Regions from separate parts of the Homo sapiens genome. Here region 2 is linked to region 1. Evidence: fine-mapped expression QTL. Tissue or cell type: whole blood. Region 1 holds a variant in brackets; the other region holds the start of a gene. All regions are shown on one strand. Distances are from middle to middle.

Region 1 (2,755 bases):
GAGACCACTGGGACCTTCATCCAATGTATAGACGAGGCTCTAGGAAGGAAGAGGCTTGTTCTGTTTACACAGTGATGATGGCAGATGCAGGAGGAGAACTTAGATCTCCTAATACTCAGGCCTTCAGCGTTGGCCTTTCAACTCAAGCTTTCCATCCTCTGTGGCCTGCTATCCCAGCAGGACCACTGACCACAGCCCCTGAAGGAGCACAGGCCTAGAGGACACACAGCTCTGGAGGCTGGGGAGGGCCACAGAGACAGAGCCCAAGCTGTATCAGAAGCCCAAGCACTGTATTAAAGTGAAAAACCTTGAGAATTCCCACTTTGTAATCCTGGCCATCAACCCCTCATAGCAATTTGGTGACCCTTCAATGAAGAGTTTCATGGATTTTATGCCCTTCTTGGTAAACCTATTCTGGGTTTCAGTTTATCCACACAGACAAAACCTCCAGGATTGCCTACTTTCAGGGTCAATGTCCAAGTACCCCTTTGACATCTAGACAAGATGGCAAAAGCCTGGCACATGAACCACCATCCTCCCTCCAGTGCCCATGGCAGACATTACCAATCAAGAGTCTATTTCCCACTGAGCAAGATAAAGACCTTAGAATCATTAACAGCACAGCCTCCAGCTGTCCAATCATTCAGCATTGGCACTCAAGGTGAGATTTATTTGCCAGCTGTCATCTACACTAATCTAACACAGCCTGGGATCATAGGGAAATCTCTCTTGGCCTCAATTTTTTCACCTCTAAATATGAAGTGATTTTTATGTTCCTGCCAGCTCTGTGATCTTGTGAATTCCTAATGGAACCAGACAATTCTACATTGTGGATAATGGAAGGAAATTCTGTTGGTTTCAAGAGAAATTCTATGCAGTTTTTAATATAATTTTTGGCAGCAAATCTGCCCTTCCTATTCTATTTAAATTAGGTTGGGTCAGAGCATGGTGGGATCCAAGGACATTGGAAGTCTGGCTGAGCATATTGGGTTCCACATCCCCTACGAAGCCAAACACGGCAATCTGATGGTGTTCCTGGCCTCCAAGGTCACCAGTGCCCTCTGGAAGCCATTTCGTGCTTTCAGGAAGGTCCTGAGCCAAGATAATTCTAACCTTTTTCTTTGAGGTGGAACATGACTGTCCCGCCCACCATCTCCCAGCAGGAGAGATCCAGGATTGACATTTCTGCCCCTCACACTGTCCCTACTTGTCCTATCCCATGTTCTGGGAGGGCAGATGTGTTCCTCTCACAGAGCCTAGGCAGCCTTTCTCATCTGCCTGCCAGCAAGCCGGGTGCTCTCCCCACCCAGCCAGGAAGAAGGGGATCCTCAGAGGGAGGGGAGAAGACAGGGCTGCCTGCTTGCCACCAGGCACTGTGAAAGAGAGAACTTTAAATCTTGGCCTCCACCAGGGAACTGCCTTAATTAGGGTGGCGCCAAGCATGATGCTGTAATTAACTGTGTGTCTGTGTTTCCATCCCAAA[C/T]GCCCATTTCCAGAGCTTTGTGATCCAGTCTTCTAAAGAGAAGCTCCAGCCAGAAACTTGGCACCAGCAGCCCCAGAGGGGAAGGATGGCCAGATTTCCCCTACTCTTCCCTCTTACCGCCCCACTCTGGGTGAGTCTCTGGAGGTAGAAGCCATGGGACCCTCCTAAAAGGGTGTTTATGTGTGCTCAGAGCTACTGCCTGAGCTCTGCCTGGTCCCCAAAGCCAGGGAAACCCCAAAGCAAGGTATCAGTATGGACAGTCCCAAGCATTCCCTGGGCAGGGGGCACACCTGTTAGTTTGACTTGAATAACATCCATTTTACATTATTCTAGTAACTTTGATCTTCTTTGGGGAACCAGCCGCATCCATCTGTAGCCCTTGGGAAGGACCCATGACCTAGTCTGGCCAATCAGAGTGTTCATCCCCTGGCCACAGTGATTGGTCCAGTGTGGGTCTGAGCCAATGTGACTCTGTTGCAGAATCTTGAGATGGAACTGTTACGGAATGGTATTTGCTTTTCTTGGTAATTGCCAAGCTGGGAGGATGTCAGTCTGGAGGTGCAGAGGCCATGTTTGCCACCTCATACAGGGAGAGTCTCTCAGTGAGACCAAATTGAAGAAAGCACAGAAAAAAGATGGAGGGTGCCAGAGACAGACCTAATGGCATCCTTTAAGCAGTTGACTCCAGCCATACCTGAAGCAAAATGCTCCCGGAGACTTTTAATTATGTCAGAGGCAATAAATTTCTAATTTTTATGTATGTCAATTTGTTTTATGTGGTTTTGTTTGTTTGTTTTAGAGACAGAATCTCACTCTGTTGCCCAGGCTAGAGTACAGTGATGTCATCATAGCTCACTGCAGCCTCAACCTCCTGAGCTCAAACCACCCTCCTGCCTTAGCCACCAAAGTAGCTAGAACTATAGGTGCATACTACCAAGTCCAGCTAATTTTTTACTGTTTTTTTTTTTGTTTTTTTTGTTTTGTTTTGTTTTGTTTTTTTGGTAGAGATGAGGTCTCGCTATACTAGAATGTACAGGCTGGTCTTTAACTCCTGGCTTCAAGTGATCCTCCTGCCTTGGCCTCCCAAAGTGCTGAGATTACAGGTGTGAGCCACTGCACCCTGCTGTTTATGTCAATTCAAACTGACTGTCTGTCACTTGCAACTTTGATATGGTTTTGCTGTGTCCCCACCCAAATCTCATCTTGAATTTCCACGTGTTGTGGGAAGGACCCCGTGAGGGGTAATTGAATCATGGAGGCAAGTCTTTTCCA
Region 2 (2,500 bases), 59 kb before region 1:
CAGCGCTCACGGCGAAGCTGTCACCTGGGACGGGGACGACATGAAGCCCCTGAGTCTGGCTCCAGGTGCCAAAAGTTACCCCCGCGGAGGGAAGAAGGAGGCGCGGTGGGAGGCGAAGGACCACGGCACGGGGGCCAGGAGGGGGTTCGCGGGCTGGGGCAGGAGCCAAGAGAGGGACGCGGGTAAGTAAAGGGGGGTTCAGCGAAGCCCTAGGAGCGAGGAGCCAGAAGGGGGCAAGAGGGGTGAGCAGTACCCCAGGAGGACGGGTTTAGGATCAGACCAGGGAGCACTGGCAGCCAGGACTGCGGAGGAGAGGGCTGGGGGTCAGGAGAGGGGCCGCAGTAGGTGCAGGAGCCAGGATATCGGAAGAAGGGCCGGGGGGCAGGAAGAGGGGGCAGGGTCTTGCGGGGAGGCGCTTGGGGGTCTGAAGAGAGGGTGCCGTGAGAGCCGAGGGCAGGGACGCGGGAGGGGGAGGGGTTGAGGGTCAGCGGTGGGAGCGCAGGACCGCGGGGAGCGGGTAGGAGGGACAGAGGAGGGGGCGCGAAGGCTGCTCAGGGAGCGGGCTTGGGGGGCCGGTGGCCGGAACTGGGGCTTCGGGGTGGCCCTGGTCATAAGACCTGGCGGGCTGGGCCGTTCTGCCGCGGCCGCGGTGTCCCCCGCGTCCATCCCCGAGGTCTGCGCCCCGCGCGCCCCTACCTTCCGGGCTCTCCCTGCGCTTGCACACGGCGGCTGCAGGCACATCGCGAGGCGGCGGCGGCGGCGGCAGCCGCGGCGGCGGGAGAAGGAAAGAAAGGAAGGGAGAGAGTTAGCGACCGCGGCGGCGACGGCGGCGGGGCCCGGGGCGAGCGCGCGGGCGGGGGCACTGACCCGGCTTGGAGTGAAGTTTCCCCATGCTGGGGCTGCGGCGGCCGGGAGCGTCCCTAAGCCATGCGCCCGGCCCGCGGGCCTGGCGCCTCCCTTGGCTCTCCTCCTCCCGAAGCAGCCCCCGAGCCGAGCGGAGCCCGAGGCGGCGCCGGGACGCGCTCCTGCCGCCGTCGCCGCGGCCCGACTGACGCCCGGGAGCGCCGAGCCCCCAGCCCGCCGCCGCGGCCCGCGCCTCCCCGCGCGCCCATTGGCCGGTGCGGCGCATCAAAGGCAAGGCTGGTTGCGGCGGGGGCGGGGCCGGAGGCGGGGCAGGGCGGGGACGAGGGCGGGGCGCTGACGGGAGGGGCGGGACACAGTCCGCGCTCCCTGCCGCGGTCTGGGGCCGGGGGCCGAGCTCCAGGGCTGGCGACCCGGCGGGGCGGCTTGTCCAGGAGGCGTATTGGGACAGAACAGCCCGGCCATCGCTAACTGTACTGTCACTTCCCTCCGCTCCACGTTCTCTCTAAACGGGCAGGGCGGGACTCGGCGGCTCCAATTTACAGGTGGGGAAACTGAGGTCGGGAGCGGAGACCTTAGCTGCTCAGGTGCAAGCTTCGGCAGCGCTGCCTTTTCCCAGTCTTCCCACGACCTACCTTCTGCAGAAAGTGTTCATTACCCGCCCCGTGACCCGCCCCCCACCACCGCACTCCTCTAGTTTCTTATTTGGGGAGTCCAGGAGGAGCCCCCAGCGCACCCCGGGCCAGTGTGAGCCCAGCCCTCTCCAGGCAGCGACAAATGTCCAAAGCGCCCCGTTATCAGCCAGTCTCTGGGATCTCCTCGTCCGGGGGCCCGTGGGTGCCCGCCCGGGTCGGGGCGCGCTGCCAAACTGCGCGGCCCGGAAGGGGGTAACCGCTGAGTCTTTGATCTTCCTTGGTTTCCGCTCCCCGCTGCAGTTCGCCAGACCCAAGGGTTTGTTTGTTTTGTCTGGGGAGGTCTCTGCGGGGAGGTCGCGCGGGGGGAGGGGGATGGTGGCGGTCGACATCAAGGGATTCCACCCCACCTTTGTGGCTCTCAGAACGCCTGCCCCCTTCTGGGGACACTGTGGGTCCGTGTTACGCTCGTCCTGGCACCAGGCAGCTCTGGCGTGGGAAAAGAAAACCCGCAGCTCAGAGTGAGACCAGCCCCGACCTTTGGAGTGAATTACCTGTGCTCAGTTTTGTGATCTGTATAATGGAGGCTCCATTCTGCCCTTTTTGCCGACTCTCTAGAGCAGCACTGCCCAATAGAAATATAATGTGGGCCACATTTGTAATTTTAAATTTTCTTGTCGCCACATCTTTTAGAAGTAAAAAGAAATAGATGAAATATTAATAATATATTTCGCTTAACTCAATACAGTCAGCCCTCCTTATTCACAGGTTCCACATCTGTGGCATCAACCATCTGTGGACTGAAAATATGCAAAAAGAATAATACAGCAAAAATAAAGAATAAAAAACTTTTTAATATAGTATAACAACTATTTACATAACATTTACATTGTATTAGGAATTACAAGGAATCTAGAGATGATTTAAAGTATTCAGAAGGATGTGTGTAGGTTATATGCAAATACTACAGGACATTTTATATAGCGGACTTGACATCTGGGGATTTG

What was found. PIP is the estimated chance that this variant, and not a neighbour inherited with it, causes the effect.
Region 2: NKD1 starts here. The variant in region 1 is fine-mapped to the expression of NKD1 in whole blood (TOPMed, PIP 0.92).

The regions. Positions count from the first base shown.
Region 1 is chr16:50,488,012-50,490,766 of GRCh38, reverse strand. No RefSeq gene overlaps it. Among named protein-coding and RNA genes, the nearest start is that of NKD1, 59 kb to the left of the region's middle. The variant C/T (reference allele first, on the strand shown) is at 1,484.
Region 2 is chr16:50,546,946-50,549,445 of GRCh38, reverse strand. It overlaps NKD1 (NKD inhibitor of Wnt signaling pathway 1), which reads right to left and starts at 1,050. Exons shown (of 10, transcript NM_033119.5): 1 at 868-1,050; 2 at 697-729; 3 at 1-24. The coding sequence starts at 892. RefSeq lists silencers at 728-917, 958-1,407.